7 linked regions of the Homo sapiens genome follow. Changing the gene in region 1 together with any one later gene gives a genetic interaction. Each region holds a gene or a part of one and is shown in the gene's direction. Other genes may lie near its edges.

Region 1 (3,500 bases):
ATCAGCTCAAATTGTCATCAGTGGTGGAACATTTTTTCTTATGTGCTTGCAGAGTTTTATTAAAAAATTATCTTTTGATAAAAGTAATGATACTGGTATCAGAAAGATTGGATGTCATATAGATCTGTGGTTTTTTTTGTTGTTGTTTGTTTGTTTTAGAGACAGGATCTTGCTGTCTCCCAGGCTAAAGGGCAGTGTCACGGTCATAGCTCACTGCAACCTTGAATTCCTAGCCTCAAGTGATCCTCCTACCTCGGCCTTGCAAAGTGTACATCAGTTTGTGTAAGAAAGGTCCAAGAAGTGAACAGGCCTGAAAGTTGAAGAAAGGTACTATAAATGAGAAGAGGTGTATAGAATAAGTCCATTCAAATTTTTGAATTTTTCTTTTTTTTTTTAAGATGGAGTCTCGCTTTGTCGCCCAGGCTGGAGTGCAGTGGCACAATCTTAGCTCACTGCAACTTTCGCCTCCTGGGTTTAAGTGATTCTCCTGCCTCAGCCTCTGGAGTAGCTGGGACTACAGGTGCACATCACTGCACCTGGCTAATTTTTGTATTTTTAGTAGAGAAGGGATTTTGCCATGTTTGCCAGGCTGGTCTTGAACTCCTGACCTCAGGTGATTCTCCTGTCTCAGCTTCCCAAAGTGCTGGGATTACAGGCGTGAGCCACGGTGCCTGGTCTGAATTTTTCTTTTATTCATTTACAACTTAAAAAAAAATGTTTACTGGCTGGGCACGGTGGCTCACACCTGTAATCCCAGCACTTCCAGAGGCCGAGATGGACGGATCACGAGGTCAGGAGATCGAGACCATCCTGGCTAACACGGTGAAACCCTGTCTCTACTAAAAAATACAAAAAATTAGCTGGGCGTGGTGGCGGGCCCCTGTAGTCCTAGCTACTCGGGAGGCTGAGGCAGGAGAATGGCGTGAACTCGGGAGGCGGAGCTTGCAGTGAGCCGAGATAGCACCGCTGCACTCCAGCCTGGGCAACAGAGCGACACTCCGTCTCAAAAAAAAAATGTTTACTGTTTGCCTATCTGTTATAGATGCTAAGATACGAAGTGTAAATCAAATCCCCAGACATTGCAGACATTGCTCTATCATCTGGCATTTGTTGCAGTGGGTGAAGATGGCAGAGGCTACCCTGATTTTTGCTAATTGTAGGTAAACCTTTTTTTTTTTTTTTTTGCCTGCATCTTTTTTTCTTTCTAGTCTTTAAATTAAGATATTCCTGTAGGCTATGTTTAGGCATAAGTTTCTTTCCAGCAGCTTTGTTTTTTTTAGAAACATGGTGAATTCTTTCAATTTATAGGTAAATATTTTAAATCTTTTTTTTTTTCCATCTTAGAACAGTTTTTCAGTTGTACATTTGCTTATGATTGTAGTTCAGAAATTCCAGTTATTTGTAGGTTGGACCTGTGTTCTTTGTCCTTCCATCAAACAATATGCATTATTTTCATCATGGTCTTTTTTCTTTTGTGTGTTTGGAGAGGATCTTATGTGCTTATACACTGAAACACGAATGTGATTTTTTTCCAGCTTCTATACATCTCTCTGTTGCCTTGAATGTAGAATTTTTATCTCTACTGTTACGTGTTTGAATTTCCTTCCAGTTTTTTCTTATCCAGTTTCCTTTTTCATCTCAGCTGTTTTTCCTTCCTCATCTCTTGCTTTTAGAGGTCTTTCCCTTTCTCTTTTTCTTTTTAAAATTGGGAACATAGAGTAGATAATTCCTCGGTTTGATTTCCATATTCCTAGTGTAAGTCCATTACAGGAGCAAGCTTTCCCTCTTCCTGTTTATGGTAGTTCCCCTCTTTTCTTATGCAAGAGCTTCTTAAAGGTCTTGTGTTGTTATTAATGTTTTTGGTTTACTTACCTTGACAAAAGAGGGGCATGTTGACTGGTCAGAGTGACCAAGTGTTCCTTCGTCTCTCTCACTACACTTGGAAGCTGGAGGAATCTTCCTCTTTATGTTAGCTTGGAAAGCAGATGAATGGGTACAACGAAATTTATGAAGGATAGATCATTTTCTATACTTAGGAGAGGTCTTCCTTTCCTAGTGTTGAATCTTTCGGTCCTGTAACTATAATGAGGGGAGTGTTTTTGTGTGATTTGAAATAATTTATAGTTTTTTTTTTTTTAGTTTTTTGGGGTGTTAGTGGTGAGACTGTACTATGCTGAGAGCTCATTCTGTTCCTGCAGCTACCTGTCGCTCGCTGCACAGTACTCAGTGCACCTCAGGGCTTTACCTTCCACATCTGGCCATGCACACTGCACTACTGGGAGAGAACTGCCTTGAAAGAGAATTACCAGTGGAGCTAGAAACCAGGAGGGGAGGGGCAACTCAGGATCTGTTTCTCTGAAGGGAATGGGAGAGAGTGAAATGACCCTCTTTCCCCTGACCTAGTGATAGAGAGGTCAGAGCAAGCCTCAGCTACCAACAGAGATTCCTCATTTCCAGCCAGGTACAGTGTTGCCTCTCATTTAAACTTTGATTTGGAATATGTATTCCAATGGGAAGGCAAGGAGGGAGAATTGAGCCTGCTGGTCATCTGTTGTTAGGACTGATACGACTTCTCTTCTGATGTGTCTCTGTGCTATTTTATTGGATTGCCCAGGGCCATGCCTTCTGTGTCCCACCCAGGCTGCCAAATGTCTTGAAATCCAGGTCTTTTACCAGCCCTGTCAAAGTGATTCATCTTTTGTCTAGGGATCATGCTAATCTTTTAGCATGATTCCCTTTGAAAGTATCCCAGGTGCTAATTAAAAGTAATTATTTTGGGTCTTCAGAATCAGGTTATTTTTCTGGCCAAGGCCTAGGATTCCACATTTGAATTTGCACTGTGGGTGCTTCTTTGCTGTCTAAAATTTGAGGACCACTGCCTAAGGACCTTGCTAGGTAAGTGATTAAATTAATCTGAATCAATTCAAGCCAAATTGCCATAAAAGTAGTGGGTTGATGTTTAACTCTCCTACCTGATAGTGCATGTTTTTTAAAAAAGAGTCTACACTTAGAGTTATAAATAATGTGGAATTGTTGCTAGGAGGGACAAGTATTCAGGAAATTGCCTACTTTATTAGTCAAAAATGATTTTTAATGTTTAAATGTATGCATCGCATGTTCTGTGGTAATCACATTTTTGTAAATGATCTTAAGTTCTGGGAAATTCAGTTATATTTCTTATAGTGTTTTAGTCCTATTATGACTTTGATGTACATTGATTTATAGATTCATCAAATCAACGTCTCCAACTAAAACAATAACAAAGAATTAGTTCTACACACATTAGATTAAAAATCACATTAAACAGTATGGAGAGTGGTAGTGAAAAAATTGTTTTCAATTAAAAAGGATCATTTAAACAATGATTATATACAGTGTTAGAATTCACTAAGGCTGCTTTTCTGGAAAGATATATTTGAACAGCAGCAGAATAAGCTTCTTCTATCCTTCTAGTCTAAGGGCTAACTTACAGTTTGGAAAGACTACCCTCACTTGGAAAA
Region 2 (3,500 bases), on another chromosome or scaffold:
ACCTGGATTCTACCAGTTGTTAACCTTTTCCATATTTGCTTGTATACATTACCCCCTCACCTCCCCCAAATTTTTTTTTTTGAGACGGAGTCTCGCTCTGTCGCCCAAGTTGGAGTGCAGTGGCGCGATCTCGGCTCACTGCAAGCTCCGCCTCCTGGGTTCACACCATTCTCCTGCCTCAGCCTCCCAAGTAGCTGGGACCACAGGCGCCTGCCACCATGCCCGGCTAATTTTTTTGTATTTTTAGTAGAGACGGGGTTTCACCCTGTTAGCTAGGATGGAATTGATCTCCTGACCTCGTGATCCGCCCACCTCGGCCTCCCAAAGTGCTGGGATTTACAGGCATGAGCCACCACACCTGGCCCAAAATTTTTTTCTATTATTTTTATTATTTGAAAGTAAGTCACACACATGATAGCATTTCACCCCAGAATCCTTCTCCAGATGCCTTCTGAGCTCAGAAGCTGTCACCTGTACAACCTCTTCATCATCACATCCGAGATAGCATTAACATTGCATTTTTTTTTTTTTTTTGAGATGGAATCTCGTGCTGTTGCCCAGGCTGGAGTGCAGTAGTGCGATCTTGGCTCACTGCAACCTCCGCCTTCTGGGTTCAAGTGATTCTCCTGCCTCTGCCTCCCAAGTAGCTGGGACTTACAGGTGTGTACCACCAGTCGTGGCTAATTTTTGCATTTTTAGTAGAGGTGGAATTTTATTGTAACGTGGCATTTTCTAATGCAAAGGTGACGTGCAGCCTTCCTCAGTGGTCACCTGTCCTCCTCAAAGCTCTTTCTTGTTCTTCTTTCTTTCTCTCTCTTTTTTTTTTTTAGAGACAGAGTTTTGCTCTGTTGCCCAAACTAGAATGCAGTGGCATGATCATAGCTCACTGCAGCCTTGAACTCCCTTGGGCTCAAGCCATCCTCCAGCCTTAGCCTCCTGAGTAGCTGGGACTATAGGCCTGTGCCACCACACCTGGCTAATTTTTTTTGTTTGAGACGGAGTCTGGCTCTGTTCCCCAGGCTGGAGTGCAGTGGTGTGATGTCGGCTCACTGTAACCTCCGCCTCCTGGGTTCAAGCAATTCTCCTGCTTCAGCTTCATGAGTAGCTAGGATTACAGGCGCCCACCGCCACACTCGGCTAATTTTTATATTTTCAGTAGAGACGGCGTTTTACCATCTTGGCTAGGCTGGTCGCGAACTCCTAATGTCATGATTCACCCGCCTTGGCCTCCCAAAGCGTGAGATTACAGGCGTAAGCCACCATGCCCAGCACTGGCTAATTATAATTTTTAAAATTTTTTGTACAGATGGGGTCTCGCTTTGTTGCCCAGGCTGGTCTTGGACTGGGTTAAAGTGATCCTACCACCTGCTCCTCCCAAAATGCTGGGAATACAGGCATGAGCTACAGCAACCTGGCCAGCATTTCTTAAAATATGAGGGTAGTTGTCTCGTATTTTATATAAATACAGGATTCACAATCTGGATTTGTCTCATTGTTTCCTTGTTAGATTAGGTTCAGGCTAAGTATTTATGGCAAGAATACTGCTTAGGAGATGATGAGCTAAAGGTAACTTTTTTTTTCAAGATGGAGTCTCACTCTGTCACCCAGGCTGGAGTGCAGTGGCGCGATCTCGGCTCACTGCAACCTCTGCCACCCGGGTTCAAGCGATTCTCCTGCCTCAGCCTCCTGAGTAGCTGTGATTACAAGTGCCTACCACTGCGCCCGGCTAATTTTTGTGTTTTTAGTAGAGACGGGGTTTCACCATCTTGGTTAGGCTAATCTTGAACTCCTGACCTCGTGATCTACCCACCTCAGCCTCCCAAAGTGCTTTGAGACAGAGTCTCGCTCTGTCGCCCAGTCTGGAGTGCAGTGGCGCGATCTCGGCTCACTGCAATCTCCACCTCCCCGGTTCAAGCGATTCTCCTGCCTCAGCCTCATGAGTAGCTGGGATTACAGGCTCCTGCCACCATGCTGGGCTAATTTGTGTATTTTTAGTAGAGATGGGGTTTCACCATGTTGGCCAGGCTGGTCTTGAACTCCTGACCTCAAGCCATCTGCCTTGGCCTCCCAAAGTGCTGGGATTACAGGTGTGAACCACCGTGCCCGGCCTTCCTTAGTGGCCCTTCTAACCTTAAGCTGCTTTTCCTTCCTGACAGCGGGGCCCTACTCTCCTGGTCTCTTTCCTGCTTGGGCAAGGTGCCATGAGGCTTTTCCTAGGCCTTGACTTTGCTGTAGCTTCTAAGGTGTCCTGTGGCGGCAAAAGGGACGTGTGCTCTGTGGGTGGGTGCAGCCACCTGTAGAGCTGCAGCTATATCCGCAGGATGGTTGTGTGACTGATGGTCCTTGGGGAGCCCAGCAGTGAGGATCTCAGCAGCCCACCTGTCTCAGAGTCCCCGCTGTGCACCCAGGCCCAGGGCTCAGTGAGTGAGAGCTCTCCGACCTCGGTGGGGGCGGGGCTAATTGACCTTCAGACCCACCGTGTGCCAGTGCTGGCTGGCACACAGCACTGCTTGGACTTCCCCTGTGGGAAAGGATGGGGACAGATCAGTCTTTGGAAGAATGGAGCGCTGGCTTTGCTCAGCCCTGTTCTTGGGAAGGTTTGATCTGGAGAGCCGCAGCAGCCAGACCCTGGGGAGGCAGGTTAGTGAGCAGGCTCCCAACTTACGAGCTAGGAAGGCTGACGGCTGCTCATTTCCCCCCATGTGGACCTCATCAGGGGGTCCTTCCTGAGGGCGAGCGCTAGGTTCGTCTGCGTTTCTCTCTCCCAGTTGGGCCTGACTCTGGACGCCAGGCTGAGGGAGTACACAGCTCCTTCAGAGCACGGGCTCAGACGCTCAGATGCTCGGAGCGCTTCCGGCTGCTTTTCCATGGGTAACTCACATGTTCTTCCTGCAGGCTGGCATTTGTCTTTCATGGCTTTTTTCCATCGGTCAGAATTACAGTCTTTTGATTGTATGTACGTACCTGGTTATTATCAGATATCTAGTTTAAAATGTGCATCTGAATATAGATTTTCTTGGTGAACGCATTGCGTTCTCATTCCGTAAAAAGTCGGAAGCTCAAAATGATGCTTAAAAAAAAATCTTAGCAAGCTCTCCTGTGCAGATGCTGCTGGCGCTGAGCTTTGTGCCTGGGGCAGAAAGGGTGAGGACGGCCCCGGTTGGTTTAGGAAAAGTGGTTATGAACAGAACGGGCCCCATGCTCCTGGCCTGAGGAAATGTTGTGTGAAAAAGATGGCTTCTACAGCTTGAAGGGGGACGGTCCACCTGATGCTCCTGTCCCTCTCTGAGCCCCAGGGGCAGAAGGGAAACAGTCAATAGCACGGCCGTTGCAGATGGTGCCCATAGAGGGAGGGTAGTTAGTGTCTGAGCAGGAGAGGGTGACCGGCCTTTGTGGGGCTGCTTCAGAGAGCCGGGCAGAGTCTGGGCCCCAACGTGGACTAGCAGGGGAGGAGCTCTCCTGGCTGGGGTGGCGACTCGGGGAGGTCTGGGTTGCCTGAG
Region 3 (4,063 bases), on another chromosome or scaffold:
CGTGAAATCCTAGCACTTCGGGAGGTTGGGGCGGGCGGATTGGGTAATTCCAGCCTGACTAACATGGTGTGAAAAATCCCGTCTTCACTAAAAAACCAAAAGAAAAGTGAATCAGGCCTGGTGGCGGGCGCTCTAGCCTGAGAGACAGAGCAAGATTCCATCTCAAAAAATAAATAAATCTTCGCGTTAGATAAAGGGTTTACTTGTAAACTGGTAATTTGTTGCTTTTCTGTGTTAATCTCTAGGTAAAGTAGCGACTTCCCTCTCCTATTTACGCATGCGCTATTACTGTATTTCTACTGAGCGATGACTTTCTCTGCGTTTCTCATGTAGCATAGCACAGAGTACTTTTAGTTGTTTTTGTTTTTTTTTTTTGAGACGGAGTCTCTGACGCCCAGGCTGGAGTGCAGTGGCGCAATCTCGGCTCACTGCAAGCTCCTCCTCCCGGGTTCACGCCATTCTCCTGCCTCAGCCTCCGGAGTAGCTGGGACTACAGGCGCCCGCCACCACGCCCGGCTAGTTTTGTTTTTGTATGTTTAGTAGAGACGGGGATTCACCGTGTTAGCCAAGATGGTCTCGATCTCCTGACCTCATGATCCGCCCGCCTCGGCCTCCCAAAGTGCTGGGATTACAGGCGTGAGCCACCGCGCCTCGCTGTCCGCCTCTTGAAGAGTAAACGAGGCCGGGCGCGGTGGTTTAGTAATACCAGCTGTAATCCCAGCTACTTGGGAGGCTGAGGCAGAAGAATCGCTTGAACCCGGGAGGCGGAGGTTGAGGTGAGAGGAGATCGCGCCATTGCACTCCAGCCTGGGCAACAAGGGCGAAGTTCTCTCAAAAGAAAAAAAAAATCGTCGGTTTCCTTTTCCCATCTTTCTTTCGTGACTTATATTCCAGAACGAAGCCCCACACATCATTAATGATTTGAATCGTTTCTAAAGTGTTTCTTAAATCGTTTCTTAAATCGTTTGTTGTTTCTTGTCTAACAGTCCAGAACACATATTACATAATGGAGCCGGGAGACAGACTAGGGCTGGCTTGATCCGGCCACGCAGTCCAGGAAAGGTGCTTTTCACCCCCAAGTGCAAAATGATCAATGTATTCTTCCGATCTACATAAACAAGCACCTCCTGGTTTCATTTTCGTAAAGCAAAACAAGCATGGAAGCTTTACTGTTTCGGCTCTTCAAACTTCCAGCAACTACACTGCGCTGCATCGGACTCGACGCCCGCTGGTGACGCACACGCTGCGCCGGAAGTGTGAACTGTCTGCCTCCAGGCTTTGTCATGGCGGCTGCTGCTGCACGCTGGAACCATGTGTGGGTCGGCACCGAGACTGGGATCTTGAAAGGTGGGTGGCAGGCTCGGGCGTCGGGAAGTGCAGGGGTGCACTCGCGCCCCTGGCGTGACTGACGCCTTCGTCTCTCAGGGGTAAATCTTCAGCGAAAACAGGCGGCGAACTTCACGGCCGGAGGACAGCCGCGGCGCGAGGAGGCAGTGAGCGCCCTGTGTTGGGGCACCGGCGGCGAGACCCAGGTGAGTGGCCCCTGGTCGGGCCGGAGCTGGGGGCCTGGGGCGCAGCAGCCTCGCTCTCCTCGCCATCTTGCCCTTCTTTGCCGCAGATGCTGGTGGGCTGCGCGGACAGGACGGTGAAGCACTTCAGCACCGAGGATGGCATATTCCAGGGTCAGAGACACTGCCCGGGCGGGGAGGGCATGTTCCGTGGCCTCGCCCAGGCCGACGGGTAAGACCAATCCCCTCGCTAAACTCAGGGCCGAAGGGAGAGCGTTGATGCTCCCTGAGGATACTGGAATGATGGCGACAGGCAAACTCTTAGTGACACGGCTTTGAATGGGTGACAGGGACCTGGGTTTCTGCCTTATGTAGTTCATACCTGTAACACACATTTATTGAACACCTACTGAATTCCAGGCACTGGGAGAAGTACAGGGGCTGCCGGTAAAATTTCTGCCTTCAAAAAGTTCTCATCCTCTAAGGTTTTTCACCTGACTCCATTATAATCCTCTAAGTAACCATGGGCAAGTCATTTAATAGTTTTGTGTGTGTGTGTGTTTGTTTTTTGTTTTTTTTTTTTTTGGAGACGGAGTTTTCGCTCTTGTTGCCCAGGCTGGAGTGCAGTGGCGCGATCTCGGCTCACTGCAACCTCCGCCTCCCGGGTTCAAGCGATACTCCTGCCTCAGCCTCCCAAGTACCTGGGATTACAGGCGTCTGCCACCACGCGCGGCTATTTTTGTATCTTTAGTAGAGACGGGGTTTCACCGTATTGGCTAGGCTGGTCTCGAACTCCTGACCTCAGGTGATCCACCTGCCTCGGACTCCCAAAGTGCTGGGATTACAGGCGTGAGCCACTGTGCCTGCTTGTCATTTAATAGTTTTAAGCAAGGCTGGGTGTGGTGGCTCATGCCTGTCATCCCAGCACTTTGGAAGGCCGAGATAGGTGGATCACTTGAGGTCAGGAGTTCAAGACCAGCCTGGCCAGCACGGTAAAACCCCTTCTCTACTAAAAAAATACAAAAATTATCCGGGTGTGGTGGCTCATGCCTGTAATCCCAGCTACTTGGGAGGCCGAGGCTGGAGAATCGCTTGAATCCGTCCCGCAGAGGTTGCAGTGAGCAGAGATCGCACCAGTGCACTCCAGTCTGTGAAACAGAGCAAGACTCCATCTCAAAAAAAACAACAAAAAAAGTTTTAAGCATGCATTCATTAATTCATTATTAATTCATTTATATTTTTTGAGACAGAGCCTCACTGTGTCACCTAGGCTTGAGTGCAGTGGTGCATTCATGGCTCACTACAGCCTCAACCTCCCGGGGTCAAACGATCCTCCCGCCTCAACCTCCTGAGTACCTGGGACCACAGGCAGGTGTCACCCTGCCCAGCTAAATTTTTAAGTTTTTTATAGAGATGGGGTCTCACTGTGTGCCCAGGCCAGTCTCAAACTCCTGGGCTCAACTTGAGCTCAACCACCAACAAGGTGATGTAGCTCTGAAAGCAAAGATTAGGAAGGTGCTAAGTGGTTGGATGACTGGCCTTGCTTTCTTCCAAAGATGATGAAAGAGGGCTGTGAAGCAGGCTGCATAGGTTTGGTGGTGGTAATTCTGACAGGTGAGGTCTGGAAAGCCTGTGGGGGGGACTGGATGTCTGAACTGGTTCTTGAGGGATGGGTAGAATTTTGACTGGTGGAGAAGGGGATAAGGGTATTCTAGAAAGAGGGTACTGCCTGGGAGAGGCCAAGGACTGGAGGCATGCTACAGGGTACATAAATAGGATAAATAGCATTTGATTTGGAAGTTGATAACAAGGAAGCGTTTTTTTTTTTTTGTTTTTTGTTTTTTTTTTATATACGGAGTCTCACTCTGTTGCCCAGGCTGGAGTGCAGTGGCACAGTCTCGGCTCACTGCAACTTCTGCCTCCCAGGCTCAAGCGATTCTCTTGCCTCAGCCTCCTGAGTAGCTGGGATTACAGGCATCCGCCACCACGCCCAGCTAAGTTTTTTTTGTATTTTTATTAGAGACAGGGTTTCACTATGTTGGCCAGGCTAGTCTGGAACTCCTGACCTCAGGCAATCCGCCCACCTCAGCCTCCCAAAATGCTGGGATTACAGGCGTGAACCACTGCACCCGGCCAAGGAAGCATTTTAATACAAGATGAACACTATATTAGGTTGGGATTAAATGTAAAGGGCTTTAAGTGCTAGGTTGAGAGATGTGCACTTTTATTGGTGTTGGTGAGTTATTCATTTATTGTTTTTGTTTTTCTGAGAGACGGAGTCTTGCTCTGTCACTGAGGCTGAAGTGCAGTGGCATGATCTCGGCTCACTGCAACCTCCACCTCCCTGGTTCAGGCGATTCTCCTGCCTCAACTTCCCAAGTAGCTAGGACTACAGGCATGTACCACCACACCCAGCTAATTTTTGTATTTTTTAGTAGAGACAAGATTTCACTATATGTTGGCCAGGCTGGTCTGGAACTCCTGACCTCAGGTGATCTGCCTGCCTTGGCCTCCCAAAGTGCTGGGATTATAGGCGTGAGCCACTGTGCCTGGCC
Region 4 (3,500 bases), on another chromosome or scaffold:
CTCAATGTGTGAGGTTTCCTGATTTAATTTAGGTTATGCATTTTTGGTGACAATGCCACAGAAGTGATGCTATGCCCTTCTCAATGCATTATATCAGGTGGCATGTGTTGCGGCTATGTCACATTGATGGTGATAACTTTGTTCACTTGGTTAAAGTGCTGTCAGCTTTCTGCTTTGTAAAGTTGTAGTTTTTCCTTTGTAATTAATAAGTATCTTGTGGGGAGATTCTTTCCAAATATTCTTTTTTTTGTCATACATTCACTTATTAATTTTAACATCCATGGATGGTTTTTGCCAGTAATAATTATGCCTGTGATATTTGCCAAGTGGTGGTTTTGGTAGACTTTTATAAGTGAATATTTATACTTGTAAATAACATTTTGTGCATGTAGGATGAATGCCGAGAAAACTGGTTCTTAACCTTACATAATATGTTGTTGGCAGTATAGATTTACTTGTACCATTGATTATTCTGTTTTCCCAAAATTTTCATTTGTGATGACAACAGAAATAAACACACATTGATGTACAATTATAAATATCATTGTCTAATACTGTTCTAATATTAATATTTTAAAGTCTACTGTTAGCAGACTTGGCCGATGGATTGACTTTGACAATGACTATAAAACTCTGTATCCACAATTCATGGAATCAGTCTGGTAGGTTTATTTAAAATTGTAAATATGGTAAATATTCTATTCTGTTGTATTGATAATTGGAAAAATGCACTAGCATGAATCAGTTTATTTTTGAGTCCATCGTTATTTCTCTGAAAATCTTTGGGAACAGGTTTGTTTTTGAATGTAGAACTTTTATTTTTATTTTTTTGAGACTGAGTCTCGCTCAGTTGCCCAGGCTGGAGGGCAGTGGCACAGTCTTGGCCCACTGCAACCTCCGCCTCTCAGGTTCAAGCGATTCTCTTGCTTCAGCCTCCCAAGTAGCTGGGATTACAGGCGCCCGCCACCATGCTTGGCTAATTTTTGTCTTTTTAGTAGAGATGGGGTTTCACCTTGTTGGCCAGGGTGGTCTCGAACTTCTGACCTAGGTGATCCATCCACCTTGATCTCTCAAAGTGCTACGATTACAGACGTGAGCCACTGCGCCCAGCCTGCCAGTTGCTTTTCTTAACATTATGTGTTAAATATCATTCGATATCAGTAGATATTAGCATTTTAATGTCTGCCTGATGTCTTACTATATTGATCTGTTATAATTTACCAGCCAGTCTCCCAATGAAAGACATTGTTTTTTCACTTATTTGGCAGACAGAAACTCTAAAAAGAAAATGGCATAAATGTTTGCATTTTCAGAAATAGAATTTTGTTCTGTAATTGTGAAACTCCATCTCTTACCAGGTGGGTCTTCAAACAACTCTATGATAAAGGCCTTGTTTATAGAGGTGTGAAAGTCATGCCCTTCTCTACGGCATGTAACACTCCACTTTCCAACTTCGAGTCACACCAGAATTATAAGGTACGTGAAATGTAGAGACATTATTCAGCATTGAGTTTTGTAGGTGGAAGCTGAGTAGTTATGATCACAGTAGGTATTCCCAAGTAGACCCAGTGTGGAATGTTGCCCACGACATCCACCACTTTGACCACTTCTTACTGAGTGCTGGAAATATTGCCAGTTAGTATACTAAGGCTCTGTTAAGATGAGGGATTTTTTTTCCACATTGGATTTATGATGTGTCTTAATGTGATAGGTTTTGCTTGTTTTGACCATATTTTTGTGCCTCTCTGTTGGGTTAACAAGTCCAGCTTTGACATACTTCCTGTAGTCATCGTTTCTTAAGGGTTGAGTAATTTTATGCCTTATCTGGGACCTCATGATATCATTTATTTGTTAACGGTATTTGGAAAAAAATTAATTTGAGATGCCAAATGGTATTATTTTTCCTCTGATGAGATAGAATCAGTTGTTGTTGTTGCTATGATTGAGGTGTTTAGACATGTTTGATGTTTACAGAGTGTATTGTTATACCATATCTAGACAGATATTATATACTAGTAAGTCTTCTGAAATGTGAACCATCTCTTCTCGTGTGTATACTGAGTTGTTTTCAGTTTTGAGAGTTTATCTGACCCTCTGTTTTTAAAGGATGTTGACTTGTTTGGAATTCTTGTTTCATGGCCTAGGTTTGAAAATTACATTAGTAAAATTTGCCTTTCAAAGCACGTTTTATTTATAGAATGCTTTCACATATCCTGTTTGATTGATCTTTGTAAATCCTTGTAAGGCAGGTATGATGATTTCTATTATCTCCTTACCACCTCTCTGTGCTCATGTTTGTATTTTTTTAGTAAAATATTTTAAGCACTTAACAATGTAGAGAATGATATGGTAAACACAAGGTTTCCAAGGCTTACCTTTGTCAAATCTTAATATATTGCTATATTTGGTTTTTGTTTGTTTGTTTGTTTGAGTCAGAGTCTTGCTCTGTCGCCCAGGCTAGAGTGCAGTGGCGCGATCTTGGCTCCCTGCAACCTCCACCTACCCGATTCAAGCAGTTCTTTGCCTCAGCCTCTGGAGTAGCTGGGTTTACAGGTGCCCACCACCACGCATTTTTAGTAGAGACAGGGTTTCACCATTTTGGCCAGGCTGGTCTTGAACTCCTGACCTTGCGATCCACCCACCTTGGCCTCCCAAAGTGTTGGAATTACAGTTGTGAGCCATTGCGCCCGGCCTGTTTGGTTGTTTTTTAAAACACTTGAATGTGGACAGTTTCAGGGACATGCAAAAGTAAACAGAATGGTATAATTAATTTCTGTAGGCCCATTAAGGCCCCCAGCACCAATGACTGGCTAATCTTGCCTCATTCATACACATATTCTTTCCCACTTTCCTTCCAATTCTGAAACAAATTCCAGATATCATATTATTTCATCAAGAAATAATCCAGTATAGATCTTTCATAAATAATCTTTATCTTCTTTAAACATTGCCATGTTAGCATTCGTTGTCACACCTTAAAAAGTCATCAGCAGTTACCTTTTTGTTGTTGTTGTTGTTTTTGAGATAGGATCTCGCTATGTCACCCAGGCTAGAGTGCAGTGGCACGATCTCGGCTAACCACAGCCTTGACCTCCCGGGCTCAAGTGATCTCCCCTTTCAGCCCCCTGAGTAGCTGGGACTACAGGAACATACCACCATACCTGGCTAATTTATGTGTTTCTATAGGAGTGGTTTCACCATGTTGCCTGGGCTGGTCTTGAACTCTTGGGCTCAAGCAGTCCACCCGCCTTGGCCTCCCAAAGTGCTGGGATTACAGGTGTCAGCCACTGCACCTAGCCACCTTTAATAGTTTTTATTTTAATATTCTCAAATTATGTAATTCCTGAACATCATCAGTTCATATTTCTAATGGTTTAATCATTTCCCAAGGGGTTATATTTTATTTTTATTTATTTATTTTTTTAAATCAGGATCTACCAAGACTTAAACACATGGTGACTGTTGTCTTTTAGGTCTTGTACACGTTTCAGTTGGTTATA
Region 5 (3,500 bases), on another chromosome or scaffold:
ATTTCTTTTTGTTTTTTGTTTTTTTTTTTTTTTTGAGATGGAGTCTCACTCTATCGCCCAGGCTGGAGTGCAGTGGCATGATCTTGGCTCACTGCAACCTCCGCCTCCTGGGTTCAAGCGATTCTCCTGCGTCAGCCTCCTGAGTGGCTGGGATAACAGGCACATGCCACCATACCTGGCTAATTTTTGTATTTTTAGTAGAGACGGGGTTTCACCATATTGGTCAGGCTGGTCTCAAACTCCTGACCTTGTGATCTGCCTGCCTCAGCCTCCCAAAGTGCTGGGATTACAGGCGTGAGCCACCGCGCCTGGCCCCGAGATGGACTTCTAAGAGCCTGGTGCCTCCTCTCGCTCCTGGCACCTCTCCTCTTCCTGAATTCCTCCCTGCCGAGCTCTGCAGATCTGGATGCTGCTTCCTCACCCAGCTGTGCAGTGTGAACGTGGTACAGGACATCTTGATCTGCTCAGGATCCTGACTTTTGTCTTATGGGCAATCTTGCTTCCTGAGGCAGAAGGATCATTTGAGCCCAGGAGTTCAAGACCAGCCTGGGTAACATAGTGAGACCTCATCTCTCCAAAAAATTCAAAACATGAGGCAAGAAGATCACTTGAGCTCAAGAGGTTGAGGCTGCAACGGGCTCTGATAGCGCTACTGCACTCCCGCCTCGATGACAGAGACCCTGCCTCAAAAAAATAAATAAATAAATAAATAATTTTTAAAACCTGCAAATCTTTAACAGCCATTGAGCCTATGACACCCTATGGGCATTTCCTGTCATGGGTGCTGGTACAGGTCTGACCTTGATGACAGCCTGTCTTCCCTGGGGAAGGACCCAGTTCCACAACTGTTGCGGTCTGTGCTTCTTGCCACAAAGGTAACAGAGTAGAACTGGGGTTGTCCCTTGGCCTGCCCTTGGAAGGCTAGGAGGTTCTCTGTGTACAAGTGACCCAGGTCCCTGAAGGAAGCACTTCATGACCCTATGAAGAGGGCTTCTGCCTGGCACCCACTCCATCCCATCCTCAGTCACACTTGATTGGAGTACATTTCAGAACAAGCCTCCTGCTTATCCCCTCCTTCTGGCTGAATGGGCAGTCGGCAGTCTTCATTCAGCCAGGCCTGGTTAGAAATCCCCTTGACTGTGTGTTTCTGTATGGAATAGATGGCCTACTGCCAGCATATTGGGGTGGAGTTCATGTTCATCAATGACCTGGAGCAGTGCCAGTGGATCCGGCAGAAGTTTGAGACCCCTGGGATCATGCAGTTCACAAATGAGGAGAAACGGACCCTGCTGGCCAGGCTTGTGCGGTCCACCAGGTATGGGTCTGGCCCTGGGCCATGGGGCAGACATTCCCAGGGAAGCAGTGACCCTGTCTGTGTTGATCGGGCCTGTGTGCAGCCTGTTGGCCGAGGTGAGAGGGGGTTTGGGGTGGTACAGGCAAAGCTCCATCTGCACATGTGTGAAGAGACACCAGACAAGTAGAGTCAGCCTTCAGAGCAACCTCCGCCTCCTGAATTCAAGTGATTCTCTTGCCTCAGCCTCCTGAGTAGCAGGGATTACAGAGGCACACCACCACGGCTGGCTAATTTTTATATTTTTAGTAGAGATGAGGTTTCACCGTGTTGGCCAGGCTGGTCTCGAACTCCTGACCTCAGCTGATCTGCCCACCTCGGCCTCCCAAGGTGCTGGGATTACAGGTGTGAGCCTCCATGCCTGGCCAGAATCCCCTCTTTTTGGTCAGGAAGAGTGACATTGCCCTTCAAGGTGGCTTGGTTCCCTGTCCAGGTTTGAGGAGTTCCTACAGCGGAAGTGGTCCTCTGAGAAGCGCTTTGGTCTAGAAGGCTGCGAGGTACTGATCCCTGCCCTCAAGACCATCATTGACAAGTCTAGTGAGAATGGCGTGGACTACGTGATCATGGGCATGCCACACAGGTACAGCCAAGGGCGCGCCCAACCTGGTTTCTCACCATCCCTGTGGGCTGTGTAGGAGGCACCAGGTAAAGGCACTGAGAGAGCAGCTGTTTCCTCCTTGAGTGCCAGTTGTGAGTCTGGGCTCATCTGGTACCTGAGGGTGTATTGCTTTGCAGGGGATTCTCACATTGCCTGCCTCTGGAGGACTGCAAAGTCATGGTCACCTCCAAAGCCACATGTAGTTTCAGACTGGCATTTGGCCTTACAGTGCATCTTTATGAAAATTAAACCCAAGTTCCCTTGTTGGGGTCTAACCTGGAGGGAAGGCTGCTTCCTGACATTGAAGGGGAGGCCAAGACTGTGAAAATAGGGAAGGTGTGGGGAGGGAGAAGGGTAAGGAAGCCTCAGGCCCATGGCATTGCTGCATCTTCTATCTTTCTGCTGCCCACTGTGGCCTTGATTGCCCAGCACGGAGAGGCTCGGTTCCCACATTAGCTCCAGTTTACAGCTATCCTTGGGCTGCAAACCGAGGAGGTGCCGTGTCCTGGGGGGAGGGGGAGGGGGGGATTGTAACACCCTCATCTGCCATCTGGAAACCATGACCTCAGGCTCTGCTCACCCTACTCGCCCATACGTTCCAGAGGGCGGCTGAACGTGCTTGCAAATGTCATCAGGAAGGAGCTGGAACAGATCTTCTGTCAATTCGATTCAAAGCTGGAGGCAGCTGATGAGGTGAGGCACCTGCATAGAGACACATCCAGCATAGCCCCAACTTACACAAGACCCCTGGCTCCACTTCTTTCTTAGAATGACTTACGGGGGGTTGGTTCTTCTGTACCATTTGTGATTTGCCTTCCTTGTTGGGAGAATTTTAGTGTTGGGACAAAGGTGGCCAGTGGCCCACCTCCTGGTCAGAGGTCCAGCAGCCCCACTCTGAGTGCAGGGGTGTGTCCCCTCTGGCTGAGGGACGTTCTCCTTATGCCCTGGATGGGAATGATCCTGGGAAAAGGCCTCCATATCCTTCTGCGTTGGGTTCCTGGGAGTAGAAATCCCATATAAGGCTGGGCATGGTGGCTCACATCCGTAACCCCAACACTTTGGGAGGCTGAGGCAGGCGGATCACGTGAGGTCGAGAGTTTGAGACCAGCCTGACCAACATGGAGAAACCCCATCTCTACTAAAAATACAAAATTAGCCGGGCGTGGTGGCGCATGCCTGTAATCCCAGCTACTCGGGAGGCTGAGGCAGGAGAATCGCTTGAACCCAGAAAGTGGAGGTTGCAGTGAGCCGAGATCGCGCCATTGCACTCCAACCTGGGCAACAAGAGCGAAACTCCATCTCAAAAAAAAAAAAAAAATTCCCGTATAAAAGGGCTCTTTTGGAGACTGAGCATCTCCTTGGCCAGGGTGCAAATTCACTGTTTACCCCATCAGGGCTCCGGAGATGTGAAGTACCACCTGGGCATGTATCACCGCAGGATCAATCGTGTCACCGACAGGAACATTACCTTGTCCTTGGTGGCCAACCCTTCCCACCTTGAGGCCGCTGACCCCGTGGTGATGGGCAAGACCAAAGCCGAACAGTTTTACT
Region 6 (3,500 bases), on another chromosome or scaffold:
CAGAAAATCTTAGAACAGAAGGAGAAAAAGAGCCAGGTACACCCCACTCGGGCAGGGTCTGCAAGTGGCTCTCCAGCATAGAGAGAGATGGGGGGTCTCTCTCCTCCTGAGGGTGTCTCTGTGGTGCAACTAATAGAACTTTCTGGAATGAGGAAAATTCCAGTGCATGGTCCAGTGCGGTAGCCACTAACCACATATTGCTGTTGAGCACTTGAAATGCAGCTACTATGGCAGAGGAACTGAACTGAACTGTTCCGGAGAATGTCAAACTTTTTTCCTTGTTTTTTCTTCTTTTTTTTTTTTTAATTTAAATTTAATTTTTTTTTCTTTTTTGTTTTGTTCCCCCACCCCCGACATCTTTTCTGGCTCTACCAAACCTTAAAAAAATTTTTTTTTTTTGAGATGGAGTCTTGCTCTGTTGCCCAGGCTGGAGTGCAGTGAAATGATCTTGGGTTCTCCTGGTATCAAGTGATTCTCCTGCCTCAGCCTCCTGTGTAGCTGGGATTACAGGCGCGTGCCACCACGTCAGGCTATTTTTTTTTTTTTTTTTTGTATTTTTAGTAGAGGCGGGGTTTCATCATGTTAGCCAGGATGATCTTGATATCCTGACCTCGTGATCCGCCCGCCTCGGCCTCCCAAAGTGCTGGGATTACAGGCGTGAACCACCATGCCCAGCCAACCTTAATTTTTTCATAGAGGAAAAAAGTTTGTCATGGGAAATTCAAACATTTGCAAGGGAAATTCAAACATTTGCAAGAGTAAAGAGAACAGTATGATGAACTCCCATGTGCCCATCGCCAGCTCCAACATTGATCAGCCCCTGGTCAATCTTGGATTATCTCCACTGCTGGTCACTTTCCCACCTCTGGGTCATTTTGAAGCAAATCCCACATACAGTGAATCTGTACTAGTTTCCTGGGGATGTCATACAAATGACCACAAACTGAGGGGCTTAGGACAATAGAAATTTGTTCCTTCCCAGCTTAGGAGGCCAGAAGTCCGAGATCAAGGTATTGGCAGGGCGGTGCTCCTCACTGGGCTCAGGGGAGGGTCATTCCTGGCCTCTTCCTGCTCCTGGCGGCTCCAGGCGTTCCCTTGGCTTGTGGCTGCGTCACTCCAATCTCTGCCTCCCTCTTCCCTCGGCCTTTCCTCCGTGTGTCTCTTCGAAGGGCGCTTCTCATTGGATTTAGGTCGCGCTCAGATACTCAGGATCATCTCATCTTGAGATCCTTCACGTAATTACGTAATTACATCTACAAAACCTTTTTCCAAATAGGGTCACGTTCGCAAGTTCTGGGATACGAACACGTCTTTGAGGGAGGCTGCCATTTAACCCACTATACATAGCATTATATCCATAAATATTTCAATTTGTATCTCTATAAGTAGAGACTTTTAAAAATGACCAGAATACCATTAGCACACCTAATCTTTTATTTTAATATCAAACATCTAGCAAGTGGTTAAATTTCCTGTTGTTTCATGGATACTCCTCACCCTTTTCTTGTTTTTTTTTCCCATTGTAGTTTATTTGTTGTTTGTCTTACAGTTTCCTACCTTCTGGATTTTTAAATTTTTATTTTATTTTATTATTTTTTGAGATGGAGTTTTGCTCTTGTTGCCCAGGCTGGAGTGCAATGGCATGATCTCGGCGCACCGCAACCTCCACCTCCCGGGTTCAAGTGATTCTCCTGCCTCAGCCTCCCGAGTAGCTGGGATTACAGGCATGCACCACCACGTCCGGCTAACTTTGTTATTTTTAATAGAGACAGGGTTTCTCCATGTTGGTCAGGCTGGTCTTGAACTCCCAACCTGAAGTGACCCACCTGCCTCGGCCTCCCCGAGTGCAGGGATTATAGGCGTGAGCCACTGCGCCCAGCCTTAAAATTTTATTTTAAACATGCTCCTCTGCCATCTGAGCTTTTTGTACATTAGTATTTGGATCTGTAGCAGTGACTGTCATCCGGAACAGTTTTGCGCGCCGCCCCCCGCTGCCCCAGGGACATTTGGCAGTGTCTTGAGACATTTTGGGCTGTGACAACTTGGGAGTGCTGCTGGCATCTGGCGGGTGGAGCCATGGGATGCTGTTAACAGCCTATAATGCACAGAAAAACAAAAACTTATTTGGCCCTAAATGTCAATAGTGCTGAGATTGAGGAACCCTGACCTGGAGCCTTCATGAGAATCAAGTTTGACTTTTGGTGAGGCCACTGCACGTGGGAGCTGTGTCTTCACATCAGGAGGCTTGAGGGTCTCTCTCCAGCAGCCGTGGATGGGCAGTCCCCAGAGCCTTGGTAGGGGGAAGACTTACTCACCTGTGAGCGTGTTCTTTTTTTTTTTTTTTTTGGAGACAAGGTCTTGCTCTGTTGCCCAGGCTGGAGTGCAGTGGTATGATCTCAGCTCACTGCAACCTCTGCCTCCCAGGTTCAAGCCATTGTCCTGCCTCAGCCTCCCGGGTAGCTGGTACCACAAGCATGCGCCACCATGCCCGGCTAATTTTTGTATTTTTAGTAGAGACATGGTTTCACCATGTTGGTTAGGTTGGTCTTGAACTCCTGACCTCAGGTGATCCACCCGCCTCGGCCTCCTAAAGTGCTGAGATTGCAGGCGTGAGCCACTGTGCCTGGTCAGTGTGTCCTTTTTAAATCCTATTTAGGGTGCTTTCCCGCTGTGCTATACCTTGTTCTGTGTGTGTGTGTGTGTGTGTGTGTGTAATACACACATAGAAGTGTGTAGGCTGGGCGCGGTGGCTCACGCTTGTAATCCCAGAACTTTGGGAGGCCGAGGCGGGCAGATCATGAGGTCAGGAGATCGAGACCACGGTGAAACCCCGTCTCTACTAAAAATACAAAAAATTAGCCAGGCATGGTGGCGGGCGCCTGTAGTCCCAGCTACTTGGAGAGGCTGAGGCAGGAGAATGGCGTGAACCCAGGAGGCAGAGCTTGCAGTGAGCCAAGATCGCACCACTGCACTCCAGCCTGGGTGACAGAGCGACACTCTGTCTCAAAAGAAGTGTGTATAAAACCTATATGTACAGTTACAAGAACAATAAAGTAAAAACTCACGAAACCCTCACCCAACTAAAAGAAGCCAACTGGGTACACCCCCTGCACACAGCATTGCTCAGGGTAGCTCGGGGACCAATTCACATCAGACACACAAAGCCGCCTCCTTCCTCAGAGCAGCTAGGGAGCACTGCTGTACATGACTGAACTGTGCTTTATTCATCTCCTGTTGATGGACATCTGGTGGGCCATAATCTTCTACTGTGATACCCTGCTGCAGAGAACCTCATTTATACAACCCCAGATTCTGTAAAAGGGGTTAAAAAAGCCAGCTTGCTGTGTCTGTTGATGGAAGAACACCATGCACCAGTAGAATTGCAATTTGACCGCCGATTTTAAAGACTCCAGGTGTTAATGATGCTGAAATTTTATTACAGTCTCACTTCCCTTCTTAAGAGAGGGTCGTGATGGCAAATGCATAATACACTCGTTTCC
Region 7 (3,500 bases), on another chromosome or scaffold:
TGGATTTGTCTCCTAGGTCTGGCTTTAGACTCTTGGGACCTAGACTTCTACACCAAGCGCTTCCAGGAGCTACAGCGGAACCCGAGCACTGTGGAGGCCTTTGACTTGGCGCAGTCCAATAGGTGAGGAGAAATGGGGTTGTTCCCATACCTGAGCCCATGGGTGTTGGGAGAGACCACAGGGGCTCACCTTCATGTTCCTCCCTTGGCTTAGGGGCCTCCCTGAGTCTCTGAGGGCCTGGGCTCCCGTCATCCATCAAGGAGTCTACATTCAAATCTTGGTTTTATCTTCACTTTGGCTCTGGATAGTCCAAAATGACAGAATACTTGAAGATTATGACTTTTTGGAATATATTTTGATCTGTCATCTAAGTATGAATTTGGCTGTAACTCTGCTGTTAAATGCTGGTGAGAAGACATGGCATTAAGAAATGACCCCGTTTCCACCTGCCTTCCCCTCCCTGCATCGCCCCCTGCAGCGAGCACAGCCGACACTGGTTCTTCAAGGGCCAGCTCCACGTGGATGGGCAGAAGCTGGTGCACTCACTGTTTGAGTCCATCATGAGCACCCAGGAATCCTCGAACCCCAACAACGTCCTCAAATTCTGTGATAACAGCAGGTGCTGTGCCCTAGACTGGGTTGGCGTCAGGACCCGGGGAGGGGAGGCCCCAGGCCCTGGTTGGGTTAGTGTAGGTCCCAGAAAGGAAGCAAGGTCCATGACGGGTATGTCCACAGTGCAATCCAGGGAAAGGAAGTCCGATTCCTACGGCCTGAGGACCCCACACGGCCAAGCCGCTTCCAGCAACAGCAAGGGCTGAGACATGTTGTCTTCACAGCAGAGACTCACAACTTTCCCACAGGTGAGCTGGGTTCCCTGGAGAAATAGGTGAGATCACAGAATAGGGTAGGGCAAAGGTCCCAGGCCCCTGGAGTGGGCCTGGGGAAAATAATCAGGGAAATTGGTTGTCCTTATTTTCAGTGGGGGTGGTCAGAGATGGGGGTTTGTCTCTGAGGCACCCAGACCTCTCCCCACTCTCTCTTTGCAGGAGTATGCCCCTTTAGTGGTGCAACCACTGGCACAGGGGGCCGGATTCGAGATGTCCAGTGCACAGGCCGCGGGGCCCACGTGGTGGCTGGCACTGCCGGCTATTGCTTTGGAAATCTGCATATTCCAGGTTCCATCTCCTTCCTCTCTATCCACCTTCCCTTCCAGATTCCTTGTCCTGGCAGGCAGCAAACTTCTATCTGTTAGGTCCATAGGGTTATCCTGTGTGCCTTTTCTCAGGAGGAAGGGCTCTAGGATAGCTGGCCTTTCACTAACTATGGTCATAAGTGTAGACCTGGGGAGATGAGGTGGCCAGACTGCTTTTGCAGGTCTACGATTTTCTTTAAAAACTAGCCTTCATTCAGCCAGAAAGCATGATATTGGGTTGGTCTTATGATCAGTACCTGCCCCTCAAATCTGGTTTCTTAGCCTGAGAAACTTGGCTGGGCGTGGTGGCTCACGCCTGTAATCCCAGCACTTTGGGAGGCTGAGGTGGGCGGATCACAAGGTCAGGAGATCAAAACCATCCTGGCTAACACGGTGAAACCCCGTCTCTACTAAAAATACAAAAAATTAGCTGGGCGTGGTGGCGGGCGCCTATAGTCCCAGCTACTCAGGAGGCTGAGGCGAGAGAATGGCGTGAACCCGGGAGGCGGAGCTTTCAGTGAGCCAAGATCACGCCACTGCACGCTAGCCTGGGTGATAGAGCGAGACTCCATCTCAAAAAAAAAAACAGAAAGCCTGTGTAACTCTGATTGCGAGATTCAGAGGGAAGGCTGGTGTGGGTGGTGGAAAGAAGACCAGTGCCTCACTGCAGGCTCTAGGGCTTCCTAAAGCAGGACTTCCTGAAGTGGAACATTGCAACCATGCAGGTGGTCCTTGGTGGCCTTGACTCTTCCTGAAGGATGCAGGCTGCTCCGGCCTGTCTTCACAGTTCATTCAGTTCATCCAGTTCTCTCTCCTTCCCTCCCAGGTTACAATCTGCCCTGGGAGGATCCAAGCTTCCAGTATCCTGGGAATTTTGCCCGGCCCCTGGAGGTTGCCATTGAAGCCAGTAATGGAGCTTCTGACTATGGCAACAAGTTTGGGGAACCAGTGCTGGCTGGTGAGGCTGGGGTGTGGAGGGATGACAAACACCCAGAGGGGCTTGTGGGTGGGGTGTGCGACCCAGGGGCTGTGCTATTGGGCGAGCACTGGGGGAACTGAGTGACAGGTCCCTCTGATGTTCACACTCCAGGCTTCGCCCGCTCCTTGGGCCTCCAGCTCCCAGACGGCCAGCGGCGTGAGTGGATCAAGCCCATCATGTTTAGTGGGGGCATTGGGTCCATGGAAGCTGACCACATAAGCAAGGAGGCCCCAGAGCCAGGTAAGAGCCTGCCACCTTTCTCTGGATCCAGCCAGCTTTCTCCCCAGCACAGGATGGCTACAGGGAGGGAACTTAGGGAACACTTCAGTGGTTAGTTTTTAATATGTTGGCTTATCTTATGTGTCACATAATGATGGACAACTCATTCTGAGAAATGTGGCTATTAGGTAATTTCATTATTGTGCCCACTTCATAGACTGTACATACACAAACCTAGATGGCATAGCCTGCTACACGATCCACACAGCCTCTTACTGGCAATATTATCCAGGAATTTTGTACACTTGGGAGCCATGATGAACAAAACAGCATGAGAATAAAATAAGCACAAGAGAAAATAATGCAATCAAGACGTGGTGGGCCAGGCAGGGTGGCTCGCACCTGTAATCTCAGCACTTTGGGAGACTGAGACAGGTGGATCACCTGAGATCAGGAGTTCAAGACCAGCCTGACCAACATGCTGAAACCCTGTTGCTACTAAAAACACAAAAATTAGCCAGGCATCTGCCGGGCATGGTGGCTCATGCCTGTAATCCCAACACTTTGGGAGGCTGAGGTGGGCAGATCACGAGGTCAGGAGATCGAGACCATCCTGGCTAACACGGTGAAACCCCGTCTCTACTAAAAAAATAAAAAAATTAGCCAGGTGTGGTGGCGGGCACCTGTAGTCCCAGCTACTCGGAGGCTGAGGCAGGAGAATGACGTGAACCCAGGAGGTGGAGCTTGCAGTGAGCTGAGATCCCACCACTGCACTCCAGCCTGGGCGACAGATGGAGACTCCATCTCAAAAAAAAAAAAAAAAAAATTACCCAGGCGTCATGGTGCATGCCTATAGTCCCAGCCTCCTGAGGCACAAGAACCACTTGAAGCTGGGAGGTGGAGGTTGCAGTGAGTGGAGATCGCACCACTGCGATCGCACCACTGTCAAAAAAAAAAAAAAAGACGTGGTAAATATGAGATAATATGAAGCTACTGTCAATGTAACATGGCATACCGTTTTTAGGTAAACTTTTTTTTCTCTTTTTTGTTAATTATTATTATTTTTAATCTGCATTTTCTTTCTCAAGTCAGATTTTTTTTCTCTTTTTA

Evidence for each region.
Region 2: of ATG10 (region 1) and PDPK1, changing one suppresses a phenotype caused by changing the other (phenotypic suppression), as found in Homo sapiens cells (one large-scale study listed by BioGRID).
Region 3: of ATG10 (region 1) and WDR74, changing one suppresses a phenotype caused by changing the other (phenotypic suppression), as found in Homo sapiens cells (one large-scale study listed by BioGRID).
Region 4: of ATG10 (region 1) and IARS1, changing one suppresses a phenotype caused by changing the other (phenotypic suppression), as found in Homo sapiens cells (one large-scale study listed by BioGRID).
Region 5: of ATG10 (region 1) and OGDH, changing one enhances a phenotype caused by changing the other (phenotypic enhancement), as found in Homo sapiens cells (one large-scale study listed by BioGRID).
Region 6: of ATG10 (region 1) and DHX37, changing one suppresses a phenotype caused by changing the other (phenotypic suppression), as found in Homo sapiens cells (one large-scale study listed by BioGRID).
Region 7: of ATG10 (region 1) and PFAS, changing one suppresses a phenotype caused by changing the other (phenotypic suppression), as found in Homo sapiens cells (one large-scale study listed by BioGRID).

What each region holds. Positions count from the first base shown.
Region 1 is NC_000005.10:81,978,523-81,982,022, forward strand, and holds part of ATG10 (ubiquitin-like-conjugating enzyme ATG10), read left to right. Parts: exon of another isoform or gene 1-327; intron 328-977; exon of another isoform or gene 978-1,156; intron 1,157-2,385; exon of another isoform or gene 2,386-2,895; intron 2,896-3,500. UniProt on the Homo sapiens protein: E2-like enzyme involved in autophagy. Acts as an E2-like enzyme that catalyzes the conjugation of ATG12 to ATG5. ATG12 conjugation to ATG5 is required for autophagy. Likely serves as an ATG5-recognition molecule. Not involved in ATG12 conjugation to ATG3.
Region 2 is NC_000016.10:2,544,521-2,548,020, forward strand, and holds part of PDPK1 (3-phosphoinositide-dependent protein kinase 1), read left to right. Parts: intron 1-2,307; exon of another isoform or gene 2,308-3,500. UniProt on the Homo sapiens protein: Serine/threonine kinase which acts as a master kinase, phosphorylating and activating a subgroup of the AGC family of protein kinases.
Region 3 is NC_000011.10:62,836,791-62,840,853, reverse strand, and holds the start of WDR74 (WD repeat-containing protein 74), read left to right. Parts: upstream 1-1,263; 5' UTR 1,264-1,283; coding exon 1,284-1,347; intron 1,348-1,425; coding exon 1,426-1,532; intron 1,533-1,618; coding exon 1,619-1,740; intron 1,741-2,754; exon of another isoform or gene 2,755-2,876; intron 2,877-3,434; exon of another isoform or gene 3,435-3,903; intron 3,904-4,063. UniProt on the Homo sapiens protein: Regulatory protein of the MTREX-exosome complex involved in the synthesis of the 60S ribosomal subunit. Participates in an early cleavage of the pre-rRNA processing pathway in cooperation with NVL.
Region 4 is NC_000009.12:92,283,698-92,287,197, reverse strand, and holds part of IARS1 (isoleucine--tRNA ligase, cytoplasmic), read left to right. Parts: intron 1-579; coding exon 580-662; intron 663-1,358; coding exon 1,359-1,476; intron 1,477-3,500. UniProt on the Homo sapiens protein: Catalyzes the specific attachment of an amino acid to its cognate tRNA in a 2 step reaction: the amino acid (AA) is first activated by ATP to form AA-AMP and then transferred to the acceptor end of the tRNA.
Region 5 is NC_000007.14:44,672,627-44,676,126, forward strand, and holds part of OGDH (2-oxoglutarate dehydrogenase complex component E1 isoform 1 precursor), read left to right. Parts: intron 1-1,160; coding exon 1,161-1,315; intron 1,316-1,784; coding exon 1,785-1,931; intron 1,932-2,551; coding exon 2,552-2,642; intron 2,643-3,343; coding exon 3,344-3,500. UniProt on the Homo sapiens protein: 2-oxoglutarate dehydrogenase (E1o) component of the 2-oxoglutarate dehydrogenase complex (OGDHC). Participates in the first step, rate limiting for the overall conversion of 2-oxoglutarate to succinyl-CoA and CO(2) catalyzed by the whole OGDHC.
Region 6 is NC_000012.12:124,982,632-124,986,131, reverse strand, and holds part of DHX37 (probable ATP-dependent RNA helicase DHX37), read left to right. Parts: coding exon 1-36; intron 37-3,500. UniProt on the Homo sapiens protein: ATP-binding RNA helicase that plays a role in maturation of the small ribosomal subunit in ribosome biogenesis. Required for the release of the U3 snoRNP from pre-ribosomal particles.
Region 7 is NC_000017.11:8,255,789-8,259,288, forward strand, and holds part of PFAS (phosphoribosylformylglycinamidine synthase), read left to right. Parts: intron 1-16; coding exon 17-122; intron 123-478; coding exon 479-619; intron 620-735; coding exon 736-860; intron 861-1,046; coding exon 1,047-1,175; intron 1,176-2,018; coding exon 2,019-2,150; intron 2,151-2,282; coding exon 2,283-2,411; intron 2,412-3,500. UniProt on the Homo sapiens protein: Phosphoribosylformylglycinamidine synthase involved in the purines biosynthetic pathway. Catalyzes the ATP-dependent conversion of formylglycinamide ribonucleotide (FGAR) and glutamine to yield formylglycinamidine ribonucleotide (FGAM) and glutamate.